5 separate regions of the Homo sapiens genome follow, and all the other regions are linked to region 1. Evidence: fine-mapped expression QTL. A gene starts in region 1. Each other region holds a variant in brackets. All regions are shown on one strand. Distances are from middle to middle. Region 1 holds the start of SUOX (sulfite oxidase). Region 2 overlaps COQ10A (coenzyme Q10A). Region 3 holds the start of RNF41 (ring finger protein 41). Region 4 has its middle 4.6 kb from the start of TMT1B. Region 5 has its middle 30 kb from the start of APOF.

Evidence for each region.
Region 2: its variant is fine-mapped to the expression of SUOX in whole blood (TOPMed, PIP above 0.99).
Region 3: its variant is fine-mapped to the expression of SUOX in testis (GTEx, PIP above 0.99).
Region 4: its variant is fine-mapped to the expression of SUOX in unexposed skin (GTEx, PIP above 0.99).
Region 5: its variant is fine-mapped to the expression of SUOX in sigmoid colon (GTEx, PIP 0.95).

Annotation. Positions count from the first base shown.
Region 1 is chr12:55,994,239-55,999,238 of GRCh38, forward strand. It overlaps SUOX (sulfite oxidase), which reads left to right and starts at 3,038. Exons shown (of 5, transcript NM_001032386.2): 1 at 3,038-3,101; 2 at 3,377-3,485. RAB5B (RAB5B, member RAS oncogene family) reads left to right here. Exons shown (of 6, transcript NM_002868.4): 6 at 1-2,445. RefSeq lists an enhancer at 2,812-3,312 and a silencer at 2,898-3,087.
Region 2 is chr12:56,270,695-56,275,801 of GRCh38, forward strand. COQ10A (coenzyme Q10A) reads left to right here. Exons shown (of 5, transcript NM_144576.4): 5 at 1-272. CS (citrate synthase) reads right to left here. Exons shown (of 11, transcript NM_004077.3): 8 at 4,308-4,437; 9 at 4,083-4,184; 10 at 2,893-3,102; 11 at 1,005-2,560. The coding sequence ends at 2,390. Among named protein-coding and RNA genes, the nearest start is that of COQ10A, 6.3 kb to the left of the region's middle. RefSeq lists a silencer at 471-765. The variant G/A (reference allele first, on the strand shown) is at 2,036.
Region 3 is chr12:56,219,644-56,224,759 of GRCh38, forward strand. It overlaps RNF41 (ring finger protein 41), which reads right to left and starts at 2,279. Exons shown (of 7, transcript NM_005785.4): 1 at 2,117-2,279. NABP2 (nucleic acid binding protein 2) reads left to right here and starts at 4,699. Exons shown (of 7, transcript NM_024068.4): 1 at 4,699-4,798. RefSeq lists enhancers at 2,201-2,250, 2,237-3,171, 2,471-2,690, 3,172-4,105, 3,522-3,816 and a silencer at 4,548-4,787. The variant C/G (reference allele first, on the strand shown) is at 2,940.
Region 4 is chr12:55,674,530-55,679,658 of GRCh38, forward strand. No RefSeq gene overlaps it. Among named protein-coding and RNA genes, the nearest start is that of TMT1B, 4.6 kb to the right of the region's middle. The variant A/G (reference allele first, on the strand shown) is at 3,001.
Region 5 is chr12:56,390,271-56,395,399 of GRCh38, forward strand. No RefSeq gene overlaps it. Among named protein-coding and RNA genes, the nearest start is that of APOF, 30 kb to the left of the region's middle. The variant T/C (reference allele first, on the strand shown) is at 1,930.

The sequences.
Region 1 (5,000 bases):
TCCTTTTTACAAGTGGAAGAACTAGGATGGCTTTCCAAAGTCTTCTAGAAATGAAGTTCTTTCTCTGTGCAGCTTTCCCCCTTGGAGCAGGAGTGAAGATGTTTCATTATCTTGGGCCTGGGAAACCACTTCCCCAGGCTTCTCCCTCCCCCCACCCCCATAGGAACAGGATTTGGCCTTAGCTTCTGGGCCTATCGGCTGCCTTCCCTCTACTTCCTACCACCTCTTCTGCCTTCCTTTGAGCTCTGTTGGGCTTGGGGATCTTAGTTTTCTTTTGTTTATTTCCCAGCTCATTTTTTTCTTCTGGTCAGTTTTTTTAAGGGGGGGTGTTGTGGTTTTTTGTTTTTGTTTTGCTTCTGAGAAAGCATTTGCCTTTCTTCCTCTCCCAACATAACAATCGTGGTAACAGAATGCGACTGCTGATTTACCGATGTATTTAATGTAAGTAAAAAAAGGAAAAAAAGAAAAGGGCATTGGAGTGTTGCTTTTTTTTATTTTATTGTTATTATTATTATTATTTTTGCTATTTGTCAGGTACTAGGAATTTGGAAGAAAGGATACCCAGTAATGTTCTACTGAATCAGAAACACACCTTTCCCTGCATCTTGATACATCTTTATTCCCTTTAATCTTTTCTTAAACATCTAGTTTAGAAAATAGCCCTTCTATTGCTATTTAATCACCCCTCTTCTAAGGCCACTAGATTGTTCATCAAATCAAACCCTATTATATCTTTTTAGGCCCTCTTAACAGAATGTATATGTGTAGGGTATGGTCTGTGGATCTTTGGGCCCACTGATCAGATTAGAGAGAGGGGTGCTATTTGAAGTAGTATACAAAAATGTATGTGCATATTTCTTTTTTTTTTTTTAATTGAGACGGAGTCTCTGTCGCTAGCCTGGAGTACAGTGGCACGATCTTGGCTCACAGCAATCTCCGCCTCCTGAGTTCAAGTGATTCTCCTGCCTCAGCCTCCTGAGTAGCTAGGATTACAGGCACGCACCAACACACCCAGCTAATTTTTGTATTTTTAGTAGAGACGGGGTTTCACCATGTTGGTCAGGCTGGTCTTGAACTCCTGACCTCGTGATCCACCCACCTTGGCCTCCCAAAGTGCTGGGATTACGGGCGTGAGCCACTGCGCCCGGCCGTATGTGCATATTTCTAGGATCCATTTCTATATGTTTCTCAAAGGGGTCCATGACCCAAAGGTTGAAAAACATCACTGAGTTAGTTTTCTTGTAGCTTCCACCTCAACGGGAAAATTTCCTCTGGATCTGCTCTTGACTCCTAGTGTACTTCAAACCCTTCAGTCCACCACAGTCTAAAGGTCGAGGGAAGGGAAATGAAATAGGATTATGTGTGGTTGCAGTAGGCTTTAAATTCCAAAGAATCTGAAGGTGGATAGGAAAGAGGACTGGTGCCAGACAAATCTGACATTCTAGGCCTGTCTCTGTCAACTTAACCAGCTGTGGCCTTGATCAAGTTAGTTAGTGCCTTCCGCCTCGTTTCTTCATCTGTAAAGTAAAAGCTGAAGATTAAGGTCAATTATGTAAAGTATGTGTGTCACACAAAAGTAGATGACACTATTAGGAAGGAGGCTTTTAGATAGTCCCTAACTGACTTCTCTGTATCTTCCTTTGGCTGAGACTTTTTTTTTTTTAGGTTGAAGCTCGCTTTCTCTCTCTCTCCCTCTTTCTCCCTCTCTCTCTCTCTCTCACTCTCTCTCTCTCCATATATATATACATATATATATATATATATATTTTTTTTTTAACAACTGGTAGGATAGGTTGGGCATTAGCCTTCTTCAGTGATTTGATTGTATACAGATTGAAATCCTTTCCATTTCCAAACACTTAAGAGCCAAAGCCAACTTGCCAACTTTTCACTGTCGGTTCCCTTACCTTATATCTCTTGGTAATACCCCCCACCCCCGTTCCCTGATTCCTGGTAAAAGCTCTAGTTGGAGAGCCGAAAGGAAAGGAAATGATCTTTCAAAATTAAAGGTGAACACCTTCACTTAAACTGATTAAAATTGCAGCTCCACCGTCCGGCCTCTAGAGGGCAGTGTATGGATACATTTGTCCAGATTGGGGGACTAGGTTTGATAAATTTTGTCCTGCATCAAATGACAAAAGGGTAATAGGAAATGTATTATATTTATGCCCCTTACTTTGAGATAAGAGACTACAACCTTCATACTTCGGGGTGTTAAGCTGCCATTGCTCTTGTTAAGGGGCAGTTTGTTTTTTAAGAGATGGGGTCTTGCTCTGTTGTCCAGGCTGGAGTGCAGTGCCGCGATCTTGGCTCAGTGCAACCTCGAACTCCTGGGCTTAAGCGATCCTCCCGCCTCAGCCTCCCGAGTACTGGGACTACAGGCGTGTGCCACCAAGGGGCGATTATTATTTTTTTTTTCTACGCAAAATAAAAGACGGCTATTCAGTGTTGTTGTTTCATTTTTGTTTGGGGAGAAATTCGACTAGCCCAAGGAATCTCAAATTCTTGGAACCACTATTTTAGGCATTTCTGTTATCATTCCTGGAATACGAGAACTAAGCGATTGACTTTGCTTTCCCTAAAAGATAAACAGGGTAGTTGTAGTTGCAACAGAGTAGATAGAGGTAGGTCTACCCTGGGTTTAAAGTGGAGATCACAGCCGGGGAAAACCGGACTGGATCCCGAGGCCTCCTCCAGGGAGGGGCGGCAGGGGTGTCTCAAAATCTCCCACCTGTCAGCCCAACTTTTGGATTCCTTGTCACCTTCCACACTGCCCGAGCTCCGGACATACAGCCCTGGTGCACAAGGGTCCCATTCTTTGCACACCAGGGGTATAATGGACTCCGGACTGTTGGCGAGAGTGACAGCAAAAAGAGCCAGCCTCTTCTCCCAGGCTTCTTAGCAACCTGCCTGTCTCGGCTCCAGGAGGCGGGTTCCAGCCAATGGTTGAGCCACCCGCTTCCAGCCAATGGCTGAGGGATAAGCTGAGGGGAGTGAGAGGTCACTTACTGCAGCCGGACATAACGGCGCTGGCCCCGCCCCTTCTCGAGAACTCGCAGAGCTGGGCTGGTAAAATTGCAGTGCTGAAGACACTGGACCCGGTAAGGAGACTGGGGGTGGTAAAGAAGCTGGGGAGGAAGGGCTGCTGAGCTGGGCAGCGGAGGGGGCCTTGGTGTCCAGCTGTGCTCCGAACCTCAAGGGCAACAAAACTATCAGTACCTGCCTCCACTCCTTCTGTCTGGGTGCTCTTGAGATCGCGGGGTGTTGCCGCAAGACCCTTTTGTGCCTGGATGCCGGACGTATGTTCCTACCTAACGTGCCCATGGGGAGTGAGGGGTCATCACCTGCACCAACGGGTGGCATTTCTGTATTACAGCAAAAGGCTGTCCCTCCCAAACCTGGGATTCTGGGCTCACTGAGTTCACCTGCGAGTCAGCCCTACCTGCACTGCTCTGGTCTAGTACAAACAGGCTGCTGGCATTGAGGTAGGTGGCAGAGAGAGTAATGGTCCCATGGCCCAGGGGCAAGGTGAAGACTGCTCCTATTCCCATCTCTAGGTTTCCTTTCCTCCCTACCCACGACCCACCCACCCCAGCACATTGGTCTCCAGCATCTCATCAGCAGTTTAGACATTTGTCACCCCTCCTCACTTTGGCCCTGCTGGGTCAGTGCTCTCTGTTCAGCAATTTGAGGAAGAAACTTGCAGGGCAGAGAGCAGAAAAATTACCTTCCTTCTCCAGCCTGCCCCTGACACTCTGGCCATTAACTCCTCAATTTGCTGAGCTCACTACAGTGGCACAGAGAAGATTGAGGTGGTCCGGGACCCTAGGTTGGGGTCCAGTTCCCAGCTGGGTTCAATTTTTTTTAGGGTGAATGGAGGGAGAGTTGGGGACTGAAAAGCCTTCAAAGACAATGTTATTACAGCAGTCTCCCCTTATCCAAAGTTTCCTTTTCCTGAGTTTCAGTTAGCTATGGTCAACCGCTTGGAAAATAGTTGAACACAGTACAATAAGATATTTTGAGGCTGGGAGTGGTGGCTCATGCCTGTAATAATCCCAGGACTTTGTGAGACCAAGTTTGAAGGATCACTTGAACCCAGGAGTTTGAGACCAGCCTGGGCAACATAGTAAGACCTCATCTCTACAAAAAAAAAAAAAAAAAGACCATGCATGGTGGCACACGCCTGTGGTCCCCGCTACTCAGGAGGTTGAGGCAGGAGGATGGCTTGAGCCCAGAAGTTTGATGCTATAGTGAGCTGAGATCACGCCACTGCACTCCAGCCTGGGCAGAGCAAGACCCTGTCAGGGGCAGGGGGAGGGGAGGGGAAGCCGGACAGTGGCTCATGCCTGTAATCCCAGCACTTTGGGGGCTAAGGCAGCAAGAGGCCAGGAGTTCAAGACCAGCCCTGACAACATAGACTCCCATGTCTACAGAAAAATTAGCCAGGCTTGGTGACACACACTTGTAGTCCCAGCTGCTGGGGAGGCTAAGGCAGGAGGATGGCTTGAGCCCAAGAGGTTGAAGCTTCAGTGAGCCATGATCGACACTTGCTCCATCGCCCAGGCTTTTTTTTTTTTTGAGACAAGGTCTTGCCCTGTTGCCCAGGCTGGAGTACGGTGGCGCCATCATAATTCATTGCAGTCTCGACCTCCTGGACTCAAGCCATCCTCTCATCTCAGCACTCCTCTCCCCACCACCCCGGTAGCTGAGACTACAGACAGGCACCACCATGCCCAGTTAATTTGTTTTTTTTTTTCTAGAGACACAGTCTCACTATGTTGCCCAAGCTGGTCTTGAACTCCTGGAGTCAAGTGATCCTCCTTCCTTGGCCTCCCAAAATTTTGGGATTATAGGCATGAGCCACCATGACTGGCCAAAAAAAAGTATATTTTGAGAGAGAGACCACATTCATATAACTTTTTTTTGTTTTTGTTTTGAGACAGGGTCTCGCTCTCTGTTGCCCAAGCTGAAGTGCAGTGGCACAGTCAGCTCACTCTGTA
Region 2 (5,107 bases), 280 kb after region 1:
CAGAGGTACTGAGTGGTAAGTAACTTTTACCCTGCCTGAGATTCCTCAGGAGAAAAGGCAACCTGCCTCCAGCCTGAAATACATAAAGCCTCATTTTAAGACTGTAAGTCCATGCTGCCTGGCTACTAGAGAGCAAGGGGCTTTCTTACCACCAGTGCTGAGGAGAAAAGTACTGAACGGAAACGGAGTTGTCTTTGTACTCTTGAGTTGTACCTTATTCTTCCACTTGGCCTGAGTTTTTATAAAATTTCAATAAATTGTGACAGTGTGAATTTGGCTTTATTATATTGTTTCTTGGGGCAATAATGTAGATATAGTAGAGTAGAACGAAGTTATGGCTTCTTTTCCTGGGGGAGTGAAGGTATAAGAAGGCCTCTTGGACACAGTGTCCCTGCTAACTATAGTAGCACATTCTACAAGCCAGGACCTAGTACCCACCCCCTTGTCTATTTATAGACTTTTTCAGAAGGTCAGTTGCAGCAGGGATCTCAGGACAGAATCATCTGGTCTTGGACCTCCCATATATGTGATGCCCTCAGGACCACCTCTTGTTATTTTTGGGACCTCCTTCAGGGAAGCTATAAAGAGCAGGCACTCCAAGAAGTACCAGAGCCCTCTAGTGGCTCTGGTCCTGAGGTAGCAGTACTAGCCCATTCGTCCTTGGTAGTTTGTTCCTTTCTCTCAGTGGGCTAGACCAGTTCTTGGATTAGTCACATAAGCAATTGAGAATCTCAGCTATAGCCCTTGAGTATGTTACCTTACAACAAAATTAGCAAGGTTAGGGGCTAAACATCAAGGACTTCCTAACCTTGAGGAAGGACAGAAATCTCCTCTGGAAATTTCTCAGGGAGGCTTTCCTCTGGTTAAGGTAAAAGAAAGCCAAACCTGCCTAAAGATAAATGGATACAGATTACTTATAACCCACTAAGTTCAGGATCTTGCTAGCCAGATTCCTTACCTCATAATAAAGGTTCTTCCAGGCCTTATTTAATAATAGGCTCAAGCATTGTTAATAAAAACATTTATTTTGCATTTTATACAGAACAACCTGAAGTCTCCATCATGACTTGACAGTTACCCAGGGGTTTACAGTGTGTCCAACTCAACAGTGTGGTTCTGGGACTGGGTATCCACACAAACACAGGCAGGAGTTTGGAGGAAAGATGGGGGCACAGCAGGAGTGTATCTTAATCCTTTCTCAAAGAAAAAGAAGTAGAGCATTCTGAGTTGCTGAAAACCTGTGCAAATGGGGCTTCTGAAACATTGTACTGTGAGCTCTCAGGGAAAGGGAGGAAAAAGATGTTGATAAATAAGGAGGCAATTTCTTGAGGCAGGGGACGAGGAGGGAGGCTTACTATTTTTAATGCCCTCAGCCCCAGTACCTGATAATCAGAGGAGACCATGTCCAATCTTGAATCAATTCCCTGTTCAAAAAGAGGTGCTAATACCCCGGGGACAAGACTCTGAAAATATCATGCTGGTCATTCCGGAGTTCTATGCCCCACAGCATATTAAAAGATGGGGGTTGGTGGGGGGTGGGGAGGTCAGAAGGTAGTGGCTTGTATTCTGTGGAAGTAAAAAACTTAGTTCACATTAAGCACTGATAAAACCCAATGACTGGGCCCACAGATCTGTTGAGAGGTCTCTAGTAGGGACCAAGAGGGGGAGGTCCAGAACATCCTCTGCCTGAGGTGCAACAGGTGTAGAAAGTCTGGGAGGAGGTGAGTATTAAAGTAATGGGAAACAGAACACTCCCAGACCTTAATTTTAATTGGATAGTTTTAAAAAAAAAATCAAACATTGGGTGCCAGTCACAACAAATGCCATGCCTTTATGGTCACTTGGTAGTATAAAAAAATTGCCAAAGCATGTCCAGCTAACCAACAGGTCTTGCTAGGAGGTGTTTGTGTGCATGGGAGAGGGCCAAGGGGCTTGGTACAGCTGACTATCCAACATGATTCCTATGGAAACAGAAGGGGCAGAGTCCTGGTTTGCTGGCTTATTGAGGGCTTGGCAGAGAAGCTAAAGCTCCAAA[G/A]TGACTACAGATTCTCTGCAACCGGCTTTGACCCATGGAAACAGGAGCCAGATTCTCACTCTAGAGATAGTGAGGGGGCCAAACCTACTCATACCACATGCATTAGTCCTGGTCATCCTCCAGGACCATGCGTATGATGGGCAACTCATACCAGGCAGGGGAAGGGAGCTGATTAGGGAAGAAGGGACCATTTTTCATCTTTTAAAGTCTTAATTTATATTTTAACCTCAAACATATTATCAGTGCCTCAGATATAATTTAATCTTAAGTCTTTAAAGGCCCCCTGAAACAAAAGTATACTTTTTATTTAGGCTTCCTCACTTTCTGGTAGTCACTTTCACCCAGTCTCCAGTTTTACCCTGACTTAGAGTCCACAAACTTCATCAGACCCTCTGTGCTCATGGACTTGGGCCTTTCTAGAGGGAAGCCTAAGGCTCGGCTCCAGATGAGCTGTGCCAGTACACCCAATGCTCGTGACACCCCAAACAGGACCGTGTAGTAATTCATCTCCGTCATGCCATAATACTGTAAGGTAGAAGAGAAAAATATTTCATTTAAGGCAGAGGCAGTGGCATGTACAAGTCCTAGGTGATAGAAACCTTAAAAGCTAAATTTTCCATTTTTCTCCAAGGACTTAGCCCAGTCAACCTTAAATAGAAATGACACTGAGAAAAGTATAGCAATTGGGATTCTGAAAACAGAGCAACCCCAACCCCCAACCCTCTCATAGTCAACTTTATCAAAATGCTCTGTGAGGGAAGTCCCTGCTCTGACTAGGAGTTAATTGACTTTGTGCATGGCAGATAACAATAGGGTTTGGTACAAATTAGAGGGAAAAGAGGGAAAGGAGGACTTACCTGGAGCAGCACCCCACTGTGAGCATCTACATTGGGCCAAGGATTCTTGGCTTTACCCTGCTCTAAGAGGACATTGGGCACAATCTTGTACAGCTGAGCAACCAACTTAAACATGGGGTCATTAGGCAGGTGTTTCAGAGCAAACTCTCGCTGACAGGTATATCGCGGATCAGTCTTCCTTAGTACTGCATGGCCATAGCCTGGAACAACCTGTAAAGAGTGAGGAAAAAAGATAGTATTCTCAGTAGAAATTCTTTTATTTTTCGAGACAGGATCTCACTCTGTCACCCAGGCTGGAGTGCAGTGGCATGATCACATCTCACGGCAGCCTCGACCTCCCAGGCTCAGGCAATTCTCCCACTTCAGCCTCCAGAGTAGCTGGGACCACAGGTGCACACCAACACATCTGGCTTTTTTTTTTTTTTTTTTGGTAAAGATGGGGTCTGGCCGTGTGCGGTGGCTCATGCCTGTAATCCCAGCACTTTGGGAGGCTGAGGTGGGCAGATCACCTGAGGTTGGGAGTCCTAGACTAGCCTGACCAACTGACCAACTCGGAGAAACCCCGTCTCTACTAAAAATACAAAATTAGCCGGGCATGGTGGCGCATGCCTGTAATCCCAGCTACTCGAGAGGATGAGGCAGGAGAATCACTTGAACCCGAGAGGCGGAGGTTGCAGTGAACTGAGGTTGCGCCACTGCATTCTAGCCTGGGCAACAAGAGCAAGACTGTCTTTAAAAAAAAAAAAAAAAAAAAGATAGGGTCTGTGTTGCTCAGGCTGGTCTCAAACTCCTGGGCTCACGAGATCCATCCACCCTGGACTCCCAAAGTGCTAAGATTATAAGCGTGAGCCACCACACTCAACCTATTTAAAACTGTTTTTTAGAGAATGGGGTCTTGCTGTGTTGTCCTGGCTGGAGTGTAGTGGCTATTCACAGGAGTGATCTTAGCACACTGCAGCCTTAAACTCCTGGCCTCAAGCAATCCTCTTGCCTCAGCCTCCCAAGTAGGTGGGACTACAGGTGCATGCCATTGTGCCCACCTAGAAATTCTTTTCTAAATTCTTCAAGGTAGATAAATGAAGAAAAAAAAATCTCTAATTTAGGGACCTCTTTCATTCTTTTCTTAATTCTTCCAAATTGCAGAACTTGTGTCTTGGTTTCTTTCCTAGTCGTTAAGCATCTCTGCTTACCCGTCCTGAGTTGAGTGTGTTCCAGATGTAGTCTCGTAACTTCTCATCTGACACATCTTTGCCAACTTCCTTCTGCAGCTGTGTTAGCCAGACAAGCACTTCCTATGGGTAAGGTTTGGGGAAAAAGGGAATGTTAATACATATGCCAGAAGAGAATGCCAAGATCAGAAACAAAGCATGGGGTAAGGAAAACATGTAGCAGGAAAATAAAAAGAATAGTCTTACCTGATTTGCCAGTCCATGGAGAGGCCCTGCCAGCCCGTTCATGGCTGCTGCAAAGGACAGGTAAGGGTCGGAAAGGGCACTGCCCACCAAATGGCTGGTATGGGCACTTACATTGCCACCCTCATGGTCACTGTGGGGAAGTAAGAAGGGAGAGCCAAGGGAAGAAAGAAGGGGCAGATTATGGAAACTTTGCTGTTCTCTTATTTGCCACTTACTAGCCTAGTTATGGGCTCATGCCAGCCTATAGCCAGTCAGTTATACCTAAACTCTTGTAAAAGACATCCTAATCTTGGCCAGGCACAGTGGCTCACGCCTATAATCCTAGCACTTTGGGAGGCCAAGGCGGGTGGATCATGAGGTCAAGAGATCAAGACCATCCTGGCCAACATGGTGAAACCCCGTCTCTGCTAAAAATACAAAAATTAGCTGGGCATGGTGGCACACATCTGTAGTCCTAGCTACTTGGGAGGCTGAGGCAGCAGAATCACTTGAACCTGGAGGTGCAGGTTGCAGTGAGCCAAGATTGCGCCATTGCACTCCAACCTGGCGACAGAGCAAGACTCCATCTAAAAAAAAAAAAAAAAAAAAGCATCCTAATCTCATTACCAGCTTTTGTTCACTCATCCACAGAGCTGGAGAGGTTACTGGTTGATGATGCCTGTATGCTCTGCTCCATGACTCCAACCTAGCTTTAATAGCAATGGCCCCAAAGAGCGAGCTCCTGGAAAGCTGAAGGACCATCTAATGTGAGCAGCTAGTACCTTTTCCCAGCCAGAAGCACCATCTTGTTCTTAGCATGG
Region 3 (5,116 bases), 230 kb after region 1:
TGTGTGTGTGTGTATATATGTGTATATACACGCGCGCACCCCTTATACATACTGTCTGCAAATCAAATGAAATAATAAATACGAAAGGAGGCTGGACGCAGTGGCTCACACCCGTAATCCCAGCACTTTGGGAGGCCGAAGTGAGTGGATCACCTGAGTCCAAGAGTTTGAGACCAGCCTGGGCAACATAGTGAAACCTTGTCTCTACAAAAAATACAAAAATTAGCCGGGCATGATGGCGTGAGTGCCTGTAGTCCCGGCTACTGAGGAGGCTGAAGGGGGAAGGTCAACTGAGCCGAGGAGGCAGAGGTTGCAGTGAGCAGAGATCGCAGCACCGCACTCCGGCCTGGGTGACAGAGTGAGACCCTGTCTCAAAAATAAATAAATAAATAAATAAATAAATAAATAAATAAATATGAAAGGATACTGAATACTGTTATCCTCAAGTAAGATTATTTGTAGCAACAGAATACAAAATAAGGCTGGGTGCAGTGGCTCATGCCTGTAATCCTAGCACTTTGGGAAGCCGAGATGGACCAATCACCTGAGGTCAGGGTTTTGTTTTGTTTTTTTTGGCGGGGGGTGTGGGGAGACAGAGTCTCACTCTGTTGCCCAGGTTGGAGTTCAGTGGTGGAATCTCAGCTCACTGCAACCTCTGCCTCCTGGGTTCAAGCAATTCTCCTGCCTCAGCTTCCCAAGTAGCTGGGACTACAGGTGCATGCAGCCATGCCCCGGCTAATTTTTTATATTTTTAGTAGAGACGGGGTTTCACTGTGTTGCCCAGGCTGGTCTCGAACTTTTGAGCTCAGGCAATCCGCCCGCCTCGTCCTCCCAAAGTGCTAGGATTACAGGCGTGAGCCACCGCGCCCGGCTACAGTCAGAGGTTTGAGACCAGCCTGGCCAACATGGTGAAACCCCATCTCAACTAAAAATACAAAAAATTAGCCAGGCATGGTGGCAGGTACCTGTAATCCCAGCTATTCAAGAGGCTGAGGCAGGAGAATCGCTTGAACCCAGAAAGAGGTGGCACTGAGCCGAGATTGTGCCACTGCACTCCAGCGTGGGTGACAGAGTGAGACTCCGTTTCAAAAAAAAAAAAAAACAAGAATGCAAAATAAATTTAGAGTACTGAGAGTCGGAGAGGAAATGCTTGACAAAAGCTTGTTCCTTCTTTTTACTAGAAGGCAGGGCTAGCCACAGGTCGGTCGGCTTAACATTGCATCACTCACATTCCCTACCACTAGTCCACTACATTCTTATTTGGGGCAAAACTATCAGCCAACAACACTATCAGTCTCTTGCCCTATTGTCAGACTCTAAAACCCCTGTATAGAAAGGGATAACACTATCACGGGCCAGTCCCCAAGAACAGTGGCCTCAATAACAGCCCCACTTGCTATTAAATGAAATGAAGTTTCTGAACGGGGAAGCAGTCTGTCAATCCCTCAAGCAAAACGCCTTCACCCCTCCTGGCTTTCTGCTCTTCCTCTAGCCCCCTCCTCCCCACTACCCAATTTCCCAAAGTCCTGAGTTAGGGAAGGCCTTCCAGTGTGTGGTGTGTGAACCCTGCCAGAGAGCCAGGCTGCAAACCAAGCGCAGGGATGTGAAGAATGTGAGATTCCTTCATGGAGGGCTGGGAGGGGGTGAGGAGCGGGGAAGGAATGAGAGGACAAGGCTGCCAACGACAAGGCATGGGAGAGGAGCCAAGCTATGGCGCTTCGAGGGCGGGGGTTTAGGTTCCACCGCCCCTGCCCAGGCTGGCCCCCGGAATGCTCCCTTCCTCCCCTTCTGGCCCGTCAATCATTGCCCATTTAAACACCACGCTGTTCCCCCAGTTCTGCAGGTGCCGGTCCTCCAGCTAGCCCCGGCCCCCTCCCGCACTTCTCAAAGCTCCCCTATTCCAATGGACCTTCCCCAACAACCCGTTCTCCAGAGCCCCCTTCTCACCTCCCGACTCCTCGCCAGTGCTGCTCCCTTCTCACATTTTTATCTCTACCACCATCCCTCCTCCTGAACCCCAGTTATTTCAACCCCCCGCCCCAATACCCCTGGGACATCACCTCCTCCCCTCCCACACCCTCTTTTAGGTGGAAGATCGCGCAGGCGCAGTACGCACCGCCCTGGAAGCGGCCTGGAGTCTCCGCAACCTGACCCAGTCGGAGCTGAGGCCGCAGCGGCCACAGTACTGCCCTGGTGCCGGGTCCCAGCCTCTCCCGGGAAGGGAAGGGAAAGGGGAAGGAGGGGAAAGAAGACTCCTACCACTCGTCGCCGCCTCAGACGGATCCTTTGCCCCGCCCACCGCTGCTACGCAACCCGGCGGAAGCTCGTCACCAAACCCCGCCTCTTTGTTTAACTCAGCCCCTACACCAGCAGCCAGGAGCTGCCTACGAGGAGGGACGAAGGCTGGCCAGGCCTCCACTCTAGACAGGAAGTCTAGTCTAGAGTCTATATGGTCCCAGCCAGGACTATGTAGCCATTTAGGAGGGAGAACTCTATGTTCTTCCCGGCAAAAACGTGTGGGCCTGGCCGGCCACGCTTCGCTTTGGAGGGGTGCAGGTGACTTGTGTCTTAGAGCTGACGCAGATTGTTGCGAGATCATTGCGGAGAGGCAGGCCTGCAGCGTGACCTGCTGCGGGTCCGGCCCCTCTCCCTTTTCCAGAGCCCTGGTCAGCATCCCAGAGCTTCGTAACCCCTTGACTCCTGTCATGGGAATGGATATTGCAGTTAACAAGGCGGCCGCGGGGTGGGGAGTGAGGGAGTCTGACCGCAAAGCTTAGATCTGGGGTGCTCAACGGGTTGTCTGCCTCTCTCCCAGGCGCTCTCCTGCCGTATCCACGATGGCTCCCCGAACACTTGTGGAGTTCCCTGAAACACCTAAGAGGAAGGAAGGGAGAAAAAATTTCCCTCTTCCTGAGTTGGGGTTTGATTTCCTTAGCTTA[C/G]AACACCGTGGTGTTGGGGATGTGGGCGGTAGAGAACGTGGGATCCAAGGGAAGTCAATGTGGAGCCTAAAGAGCTCCGTGAGCAGATAAGGGATTAATTAAGCAAACCAAGGCATTACAATCACATGACTTCCTAGACTAATCTGGTATTAAATAGTATGGTATTTATTGTGGACATTGGCTAAGCAAATGCTAATGCACATTAATACACACATACACACATATCTTTATGTAATTTGTTTATACACAACAATACAGAGCTAGCTACCTTTTGTGGACAATTTGACAGGTCCCAAAAGGAACTAAAGTTTCAGGCCTCCTTTCTGCTGTCTTCTAGCGGGACTCTGAGATAAGTAAGATAAGAGTAGTATGGCCGGGCGCGGTGGTTCATGCCTTTAATCCCAACACTTTGGGAGACCGAGGCTGGTGGATCACGAGGTCAGGAGTTTGAGCCCAGGCTGGCCAACGTGGTGAAACCCCGTCTCTACTAAAAATACAAAAAAAGTAGCCGGGCGTGGTGGCGGGCGCCTGTAATCCCAGCTACTCGGGAGGCTGAGACAGGAGAATCGCTTGAACCCGGGAGGCAGAGGTTGCATTGCAGTGAGCCGAGATCGCGCCACTGCACTCCAACCTGGGCGACAGAGCAAGACTCCTTTGCCGGGGTGGAGCGGTGGGGCGGGGCGGGGAAGAGTAGTATGGCCAGGTGCAGCGGCTCACGCCTGTAATCCTAGCACTTTGGGAGGACGAGGTGGGCGGATCCCTTGAGGTCATGAGTCCGAGACCAGCCTGGGAAACATGGCGAAACTGTCTCTACAAAAAAAATACAGAAATTAGCCGAGGGTGGTAGTGCGAACCTGTAGTACCAGCTACTACGGAGGCTGTGGTGGGAGGTTGCAGTAAGCCAAGATTGCACCACTACACTCCAGCCTGGGTTACACAGCGAGACCCTGTTTCAAAAAAAAAAAAAAAAGGGACTAACAATGTTTCTCTCTTTGTCGCAGGTTCCATTTCTTCCAAGAAGGGTGAGCCTGCCTTTTGTCTCTGGTGTAAATGCCACTTTTCCCAGAGACCTTGACCAAGCTGGGTAGTGCATTAAAGATGAGAACCCCAAATCAGGAACAAAGATAACGGTTAGAGCAATAAAAAGGGAGGAAACCGTGTGTGCCTACTGTGTGCAAGGCACTTTTTTAAATATAACTTCCGTTTTCTCGTAAGATGGAATTACATATTTTTTGTCTTTTTTTCCCTTTTTGTGGAGAATGGGGTCTCGTTATATTGCCCAGGCAGGTCTGGAACTCCTGGACTCATGCTATCCTCCAGCCTATGCCTCCCTACGTGCTGGGATTACAGGCGTGAGCCACCGCGCCTTGCGGAATTGGAATTACATATGTTTAAATAGTCGAGAAATGAAGTGAAGCATTGAGCCAGGATTCAAACTTTTGTCCGCCAGATTCCGAAGCCCTTGCTCCTTTTCCCATTGTGTCACTCTTTGGAAAGAAACGTCTTAGAACCTAAGTGCATTCTCCCTAGCCAAGTTAAGGAAAACTGGGGGCCCTGTGCGCCTTCTAGTGGTGGATTTTTCCCCCTACAGAGCCAACTATCTCCAAGGTTCCTTTAATACCTGAAATTCGCCCCCTTCGCGGCGCACGAGTCTCTGATCCCGATTGGCTGGGCAGGGCAGGCGGCGGGACGCAGGGCGCGCCCGGGCGGTGCTGATTGGCCGGAGGAGGCCAGCCGGGGGAAACTTCCGGGAATGTCCGCACTCCCGCGTTCCACGGGGCAGCATCCGGCGGCAGCGGAGCCTGTGGCTCCCCCTGCGGGCTGCTCAGCGGCGTGCACAGTCCTGCCGGCTGGCTTGGGTGGGTGGTGGGCTGCGGGTAGGGGAGGGGATGGACCGAGTCCCGGCTTGTCGGGATGAGGGTTCCGGAAGATCTGGCCAGTAAGATTCTACTCCCTGGCTGTGCACCGGGTTCCCTACCCCTGTCTACGTCGGCTCCGCCACTTCGCGGCTTGAGACTAAAAGAGCATCCCGGCAGGGGGCCTTCCAGCCCCAAAGCAGCCTGTCCAGAGACCCCCAAATTCTGATCCTGAAGTTGGAGGCCTCCGGGGATGTTCTTTTTTAATCTTTTAGAAGGGTTAGAGGGGTTGAGGCTGCCTGACCCCAGCCTAATGGGGTA
Region 4 (5,129 bases), 320 kb before region 1:
TGATGTTTGGGATTTGCTTCAAAATGACACACAGGAGAAGGAAGCAGAAAGTAGAAAAGGATGTGGATGGGGAAGGATTGGCTGTGGGTTGATAGTTGTTGGGATGAATGATGTATACATGGGGGTATCTTATACTGTTCTGCCAACTTTTGTGTATATTCAAAATTCTCCATTATACAAAGTTAGAAATGAGAAAAGAAAAGGAGGAGACAGAGAAGAAATAGAATAAATCCTAGGTTTTTGGTTGAGCAATCAAGAAGCTAATGGTGCCATTCACTGAGATGATGAAGAAGATGGGCAGAGTAAGACAAGAGACTTGGGGAGTACCGTAAGTGTCATTTTGGACATGTTAAGTTTTATATGTCCAGAAGATATGCTGAGGAGGAGGATCAAGTACACAACTGGGTATACAAATTTGAAACTCAAAGGAAGGATCTGCACTAAAGATATAAATGTGTGAATAATTTGCATATACATGGCATTTTAAACCATGAAAATGGATGGGATTTGGTGAAAATTATGTGTCAATGTAGGTTCATCAATTGTAATAAATGTCCACTCTGGTGGGGGATACTGATAATGAGGAAGGCTAGTCATGTGTGAGGACAAAGGGTATGTGGAAAATCTCTGTACTTTCCTCAACTTTTCTATGAAGCTAAAACTGCTCTAAAAAATAAAGTCTATATTAAAAAAAAAAAGATGAGGTTATTTAATGAGAGAATTTAGACAGAGAAAGACCCAAGACTAAACCCAAAGAAACAAAATTTAAAGGTCGAGTAGATGAGAAAGATCTAAAAAAAGAAGTTTCTAAGAAGTAACAGCCACGGGAATGTTATAGAAACAAGAAGACTGTTATGTTAGGACAGCCTAGATGAGAGAATTTTTCAAGAAGAAATAGTAGCCAACTATTTCTGAAGCTGTTGAAAAGTCAGATAAGATGAGAACAGGGAATATTCACTGGACCTGGCATGTGGAAATAATTAATAGGCTTGATAATAATAGTTTCGGGTTTCTTTGTTTTGTTTTGTTTTGTTTTTAGAGACAGGGTCTCTCTCTGTCTCCCAGGCTGGAGTACACTGACCCAGTCATGGTTCACTGTAACCCTGAACTTGCAGGCTCAAGCAATCCCCTTGCCTCTGCCTCCTAAGTAGCTGGGGCTACAGGCGCATGCCACCACACCCGGCTAATTGGCTAATTTTTTTATTTTTTGTAGAGAAAAACAACAGCCTATGTTGCCCAAGCTGGTCTCAAACTCCTGGGCTCAAGCAGTCATTTCCTCTCGGCCTCCCAAAGTACTTGGATTACAGGCACGAGCCACCACGCCCGCCCAAAGTCATAATTCTTGAGTCATCTGCTCGTGTTATCTTGGTTTCCTCACCTTCCATTCACTCTTTCTCCCACTCCAATCCATCACTAATAAAAATTTCTTGGGCTTGGCACAGTAGCTCACGCCTGTAATCCCAGCACTTTGGGAGACCAAGACAGGAGGATGGCTTGAGGCCAGGAGTTCAAGATCAGCCTGGGCAACCCTGAGAGATACCCTGTCTCTACAAAAATTTTTAAAAGTTAGTAGGCATGGTGGTATGCACCTATAGTCCTAGCTACTCAAGAGGCTGAAGCAGGAAGGGCAGCACAACCCCAGGAGTTTGAGGCTGCAGTGAGTCAGAATGGTGCACTCCAGCCTAGGCAACAGAGCAAGATCCTGCCAAAAAAAAAAGACTTTGACATAGATTTGTAAAATGGAGTTTTAGCTAAAGTGACATGTGGTGTCAAGAGGGTCAGTTTATTATTAACCTGAAATATATTAGAGCATATTCATATTTTGAAAGATCCATGGAAAGGCAGAGATTAATGATTTAGGAGAAAGAAAGATAAAATGAAGACAAGAATTCATAGCAGCATTGTTTATAGTACCCCAAAAGTGGAAACAACCCAAATGTCTATCAACTGTTGAATAAATAAACAAAATGTGGCATATCTGTACAATGCAATGCTACTTGGACGTAAAAGGAATGAAGTATTGATACATGCTACAACATGTGTAAACTTTGGAAGCATTATGCTGTGTGAAAAGCCAGTCACATAGGCCACATGTAGTATGATTCCAATTACATGAAATGTCAAGAATAAGTAAATCCATACAGACATAAGTAGAGTAGTGATTGCCTACGGAAAGGAAATTGATGGTACTGGGGTTGGGATGGGGATGGGGGAAATGGGAGTAAGTGGTAAAAGCACAAGTTTCTTTTGGGGTAACGAAAATGTTCTAAAATTGATTGTGGTGGCTGGTTGCACAACTCTGAATATACAGTCACATGTTAAGTCATATGTTGCTTAACAACAGGAATAAGTTCCGAGAAATGCATCGTTAGGTGATTTTACCATTACGGGAACATCATCATAGAGTGTCCTTACACAAGCTTGGATGGTGTAGCCTACTATACAGCTAGGCTATATGGCGTAACCTATTGCTCCTAGGCTGCAAGCCTGTACAGCATGTTACTGTACTCAATACTATAGGCAATTGTAACACCATGTTAAGTATTTATGTATCTAAACGTGGAAAAGGTGTGGTAAAAAATACAGTATAAAAGATTTAAAAACGGCATACCTATATAGGGCACATATCATGAATGGACTTTGCAGGACAAGAAGTTGCTCTGGGTGAGTCAGTGAGTGACTACACTAAATTTATTTACATTTTTTTTTTCTTTTCTTCAATAATAAACTAGCCTTAGCTTACTGCAACTTTTTTACTTTATAAACTTTTTAATTTTTTTAACTTTGACTCTTGTAATAACACTTAGCTTAAAACATAAATATTCTACAGCTGTACAAAAATATTTTATTTCTTTATATCCTTATTCTATAAGCTTTTTCTATTTTTTAAATTTTTTTAACTTTTTTGTTAAAAGCTAAGACACAAAGACACACATTAGCCTAGGTCTACACAAGGTCAGGATCATCAAGACATCACTACAGGACAGGGATTTTTCAGCT[A/G]CATAATAATCTTATGGTACCTCCATCATATATGTGCTCTGTCATTGAGCTAAATGTGTTATGCAGCACATGGCTGTACAGTTGACCCTTGAACAACTCAGGACCTAGGGGACTGATACCCCTCACAATTGAAAATCTGTGTATCTGCAGGGTGGGGAACACCACACATTGGGGCCTGTCGTGGGGTGGGGTGGGGGGAAGGATAGCATTAGGAGATATACCTAATGTAAATGACCAGCTAATGGGTGCAGCACACCAACATGGTACATGTATACATATGTAACAAACCTGCACGTTGTGCACATGTACCCTAGAACTTAAAGTGTAATTAAAAAAAGAAAATTTAAAAAAATATATATGTGTGTCTGGCCAGGCATGGTGGCTCACGCCTGCAATCCCAGCACTTTCAGAGGCCGAGGAGGGTGGATCACGAGGTCAGGAGATCGAGACCATCCTCACTAACTCGGTGAAAACCCATCTCTACTAAAAATACAAAAAAAAATTAGCCGGGCGTGGTGGCGGGCGCCTGTAGTTCCAGCTACTCGGGAGGCTGAGACAGGAGAATGGCATGAACCCGGGAGGCAGAGCTTGCAGTGAGCAGAGATCATGCCACTGCACTCCAGCCTGGGTGACAGAGCAAGACTCCGTCTCAAAAAAAAGAAAAATTAGCTGGGCATGTTGGCATATACCTGTGGTGACCACTACTCAGGAGGCTAAGGTGGGAGGATTGCTTGAGCCTGAGAGGTTGAGGCTGCAGTGAGCTGTGATCGCACACTACACTCCAGCCTGAGTGACAGAGCAAGGCTATCTCAAAAATAAAAAATAAAATGAAAATTTCTAGAAAAGGAAATACAGAGGCTCTTAATTATAAGAAACAAAAATTCAACCTCACGCAGAAAAGAGTAAGTAAGCCGGGCACGGCAGCTCATACCTGTAATCCCAGCACTTTGGGAGGCCGAGGCTGGTGGATCACCTGAGGTCAGGAGTTCGAGACCAGCCTGGCCAACATGGTAAAACCCTGTCTCTACTAAAAATACAAAAATTAGCCAAGTGTGGTGGCATGCGCCTGTAATCCCAGCTACTCGGGAGGCTGAGGAGGGAGAATCGCTTGAATCCGGGAGTCGGAGGTTGCAGCAAGCCGAGATAGTGCCACTGCACTTCAGCCTGGGCGACAGAGTGAGACTCTGTCTCAGGAAAAAAAAAAAAAAAAAAGGAAAAGAAAAAGAAAAGAGCAAATAAAAAGCACAGGATAATACTACTTTGCCTCTTTCTGTGTCCATGGAGCAGGCCCAGGAGCAATTACTCCCCAGTGATAATCACATCCAGCATTCAGATCTTGGTTTTTAAATACCATCCTCCTCACAAAAGACCAGTGCTTCTTTGAGAAATAACTAAGTTCGGGGCTGGAGCAGGGGAAATACAAGATGAGCCTGGAACATCTTCTTGTAGCAGAAAGTAAGAAAATGCTCAAAGAGTGATGGAGTTGTGTCAAAAGGAGACAGGAGCCAGCTTGCAGGTGCTCCCCCAGCCAAATCTAGGGCAATTTGAACATCAAAATACACACCCAGGTATTCACCCAAGAGAAATAAAAGCATACGTCCACACAAACCCATGTACACAAACAGTTCATAGTAGCTTTATTTCTAACAGTCAGAAATTGGAAACAACCCAAACGTTTATCAACAAGTGAATGGATAAAAATATATGTGGTATATCCATACAATGGAATACTACTCAGAAATGGAAATGAACTGCGGATGCATGTACAACATGGATGACTCTCCAAATAAACATGCTGAATGAAATAAGCCAGATGCTGAAATCCCATACATTATAGGATTCCATTTACACAAAATTCCAGAAAATGCAAACTATTTGGGAGGCCAAGGTAGGCGGATCACCCGAGGTCAGGAGTTTGAGACCAGCCTGGTCAATATGGTGAAACACCGTCTCTACTAAAAATACAAAAATTAGCCGGGCATGGTGGTGCATGCTTGTAATCCCAGCTACTCAGGAGGCTGAGGCAGGAGAATCACTTGAACCTGGGAGGTGGAGGTTGCAATGAGCCAAGATCAAACAACTGCACTCCAGCCTGGGCCACAGAGTGAGACTCTGCCTGAGAAGAGAAG
Region 5 (5,129 bases), 400 kb after region 1:
TTGGCCTCCCAAAGTGCTGGGATTACAGGCATGAGCCACTGCACCTGGCCTAAGAAATGTTAATAAAAGTCTGTAGACAGAGGAAAATGACTTCCATTGAAAATCTGGATGTACATAAAGAAATGAAGACCATAGGAAATAGTAAATAGGTAAATATACATTTTTGTTTATTTGTGTGTGTGTGTGTGTGTTTTCTTTTGAGATGGAGTCTCACTCTGTAGCTCAGGCTGGAGTGCAGTGGCACAGTATCGGCTCACTGCAACCTCCGTCTCCTGGGTTCAAGCAATTCTGCCTCAGCCTCCCGAGTAGCTGGGATTACAGGCGCCCACCATTACGTCTGGCTAATTTTTAAAATATTTTTAGTAGAGACAAGGTTTCACCATGTTGGCCAGGATGGTCTCAAACTCCTGACCTCAGGTGATCCGCCCGCCTCGGCCTCCCAAAGTGCTGGGATTACAGGCATCAGCCACCGCGCCTGGCTTAAGAAATGTTAATAAAAGTCTGTAGACAGAGGAAAATGACTTCCATTGAAAATCTGGATGTACATAAAGAAATGAAGACCATAGGAAATAGTAAATAGGTAAATATACATTTTTGTTTATGTGTGTGTGTGTGTGTGTGTGTGTGTGTGTGTGTTTTCTTTTGAGATGGAGTCTCACTCTGTAGCTCAGGCTGGAGTGCAGTGGCACAGTATCGGCTCACTGCAACCTCCGTCTCCTGGGTTCAAGCAATTCTGCCTCAGCCTCCCGAGTAGCTGGGATTACAGGCGCCCACCATTACGTCTGGCTAATTTTTAAAATATTTTTAGTAGAGACAAGGTTTCACCATGTTGGCCAGGATGGTCTCAAACTCCTGACCTCAGGTGATCCGCCTGCCTCGGCCTCCCAAAGTGCTGGGATTATAGGCATGAGCCACCGTGCCCGGCCCCTTAAATATACATTTTTAAAAGAGATAATTGACTATTGACTATTTAAGGCAAAAATAATGTAGTTTATAACATATGTAAGTGTAAAATGTAACAATAGCACAAAGGCTGGGAGGGAGAAAATGGAAGTATACTATGGTTTCTTACACTGTAAATAGCACCTGAAGGTAGTCTGTAATAAATTAGAGATGATTACTATAAACCCTAAAGCAACACTAAAATAACAAAGCAGGTGTGGCACAGTGGCTTATATCTGTAATCTCAGCACTTTTGAGGCTGAGGCAGGAGGATCACTTGAAGCCAGGAGTTTGAGATTAGCCTGAGCAACATAGCGAGATGCCATCTCTACAAAAAATAAAAAATGTTATTCAGGGGCTGGGTGCAGTGGCTCACATCTGTAATCTCAGGACTTTGAGAAGCTGAGGCAGAAGGATTATGTGAGCCCAGAAGTTCAAGACCAGCCTGGGCAACATACGGAGCCTCCATCTCTATAAAAAATAAAAAATTAGCCAGGTGTGATGGCACAAACCTGTGGTCTCAGCTACTTGAAGGTGGGAGGATCACTTGGATGTGGGAGGTGGAGACTGCAGTGAGCCATGATTGCACCACTGCACTCCAGCCTGGGTGATAGAGCAAGACCATGTCTAAAAAAAAAAAAAAAAAGCCAGATGTAGCGGCACATACCTGTAGTCCCAGCTACTTGGGAGGCCAAGGTGGGAAGATTGCTTGAGCCCAGGAGTTTGAGACTGCAGTGAGTCATAATTGCAAAATGCACTCCACACTGGGTGACAGAGCAAGACCCTGTTACAGAAAGGGAAAAACAAAACAAAACAAAACAAAAACAGAAGATAGAATTATAAAAAAATACTGAGTTAAACCCAAAGAAGAGCTGGGTGCAGTGGTTCATGCCTACAATCCCAGCACTTTGGGAGGCCGAGGTGGGCAGATCATAAGGTCAGAAGATCAAGACCATCCTGGCTAACACAGTGAAACCCCGTCTCTAC[T/C]AAAAATATAAAAAATTAGCTGGGTGTGGTGGTGGGCACCTGTAGTCCCAGCTACTCGGGAGGCTGAGGCAGGAGAATGGTGTGAACCCAGGAGGCAGAGGTTGCAGTGAGCCAAGATCATGCCACTGCACTCCAGCCTGGGCGACAGAGCAAGACTCTGTCTCAGAAAAAAAAAAAAAAAAAAAAAAACCCAAAGAAGAAAGAGAGGAAAGGAGAACAAGGAACAGATGAGACAAATAGAAAACAAGTAGCAAAATGTAATATTTAAACCTGACAATGTCAATAATGATATTAAATATAAATGGTCTAAACAACAAAATTAAAAGGCAAAGATTGTCAGATTGGATAAAAGAAAAAAGTCCAGCTATGTGCTTTCTACAAGAAACCCACTTTAAAAGAAACAAATAAATTATAAGTAAAAGGATTTTTAAAACTATACCATGCTAACACTAACCTAGAGAAAGCTGGAGTGGCTATGTTAATATCACAAAAGCAGACTTCAGGGCTGGAAATGGTGGCTCACGCCTGTAATCCCAGCACTTTGGGAGGCCGAGGCAGGAGGAATGTGTGAGCTAAGTTTGAGACCATCTTGGGCAACATAGTGAGACACTGTCACTATAAAAACAGATTTTTTTTTTTTTAAGAAAGAAAAGTAGGCCGGCAGTGGTGGCTCACGCCTGTAATTCCAGCACTTTGGGAGGCCAAGGTGGGCAGGTCACGAGGTCAGGAGCTCGAGATCAGCCTGACCAACATGGTGAAACTCCATCTCTACTAAAAATATAAAAATTAGCTGGGTGTGGTGGCGCGCACCTGTAGTCCCAGCTACTCAGAAGGCTGAGGCAGGAGAATCGCTTGAACCCGGGAGGTGGAGGTTGCAGTGAGCCAAGATCACGTCACTGCACTCCAGGCTGGTTGACAGAGCGAGACTCCATCTCAAAAAAAAAAAGAAAAAAAGAAAAGTAGACTTCAGAGGAAAGAATATTATAGGGATAAATAATGTCATTTGACAGTGAAAAAGGGGCCAATTTATTAAGATGACCTAACAATTCTAAGCATTTATACATATGATAACAGAGCTTCAAAACACAAGAAGCAGGCTGGGCACTGTGGCTCATGTCTAATCCCAGTACTTTGGGAGGCTGAGACAGGTAGATCACTTGAGGTCAGGAGTTTGACACCAGCCTGCCCAACATGGCAAAACCCTATCTCTACTAAAAATACAAAAATTAGCCAGGTGTAGTGGTGCACACCTGTAGTCCCATCTACTTGGGAAGCTGAGGCATGAGAATTGCTTAAAACCGGGAGGCAGAGGTTGCAGTGAGCTGATATCATGCCACTGCACTCCAGCCTGGGTGACAGAGCAAGACTCTGTTTCAAAAAAAAAAAAAAAAAAAAAAAATCCAAAACAATGTACCAATAAATTTAAAAGGATTCAAGTCATACAAAGTATGTTCCTTGAGCACAGTGGAATTAAATTAGAAACTAATTACTGATATCTGGATGATAGCCTAGTATTTGGAAACTAAATAACACACATTTAAGTAATTTTCATTTCAAAGAGTAAAAAGAAAATTCAAAAAGTACTTTGAGCTGAATGAAAATAAAAACAGAACATGTCAAAATTTGTAAGATGTTGCTAAAGCTGTGCTTAGAAGGAAATTTAGAGCACATGAACATACAGATTCAAGAAATGGAGTGAACCCTAAGTAGAATAAATTCAAAGAAATCTATTGCAAGACACATCATAAGCAAACTTCCTAAAATAAATACAAAGAAAAAAGTCTTGGAAGCAAATAGAAACAACATAGTACCTATAAAGGAACAATTATTCCATTGACAGTAGATTTCTTATAAGAAGCCATAGAGACCAGCAGGGAATGGCACATTTTCCAAGTACTCAAACAAACAAACAAACAAACAAACAGACAAACGTCAACTTTAAATCCCATACCCAGCAAAAATATCCTTCAGGAATGAAGGTGAAATCAAGAGCTTCTCAGATAAGGGAAACTAAGATAATTTGCTTCCACCAGACCTACTCTTAAAAAAAAAAGAAAGAAACAAAGCTTAAAACATTGTGAAGAAAATTTGGGAGGCTGAGATAGGCAGATCACTTGAGGTCAGGAGTTCAAGACCAGCATGGCCAACATGGCGAAACACCATCTCTACTGAAAATACAAAAATTAGCCAGGCATGGTACCGCACGCCTGTAGTCTTAGCTACTCGAGAGGCTGAGGCAGGAGAATCACTTGAACCTGGGAGGCAGAGGTTGCAGTGAACCAAGATCACATCACTGCACTCCAACACTGGGCAACAGAGTGAGACTCCATCTCAAAAAAAAAAAAAACCAAAAAACCAAACAAAACAAAAATTATGAAGAAAGAAGAGGAAGTATAAAAATATAAATACATGACAATAGGTCAATCTTCTCATCTTGAGTTTTCTAAATTATATTGGATGGCTGAAGTAAAAATTATATTATCTGATATGGTTCTCAATATATAGATAGGAAATATTTAAGATAATTATAGTATACAAGGGGGAGGGAATGTTAAGGGACCTAAATGGAGGTAAGATTTCTATACTTTACTCAAACTGATAAAATGTTGACACCAGTAATTGTGATAGGTTTCATATGTATAATGCAATATCTAGACCAACCACTAAAAACATTCATAATAAATAAAAATTTATAACAGATAAATCAAAAAGGAATTTAAAGAAATGTTCAAGTAATCCACAGGAAGGGGAAAAAGGTCAAAGAGTAATGAAAATGAGAGCTGAAACAAACAAAAAGAAACATAAAATGGCAGACTTAGCCCTAATATATCAAAAATTACATTAAATGTAAATGATCTAGGCATACCAATTAAAAGACTGGTAGAAAAATAAAAAACAACATGTATATGTACATGTACATGTAAATATAATGACATAGGTAAGTTGAATGTAAAAGGATAGGCCAGGTGCGGTGGCTCACATATGTAATCCCAGCACTTTGGGAGGCTGAGGTGGGTGGATCATCTGAAGCCAGGAGTTTGAGACCAGCCTGGCCAACGTGGAGAAACCCCACCTCTACTAAAAATACAAAAAATTAGCCAGGCGTGGTGGCACCTGCCTGTAATCCCAGCTACTCGGGAGACTGAGGCAGGAGAATCGCTTGAACCCAGGAGGCGGAGGCTGCAGTGAGCCGAGATCAC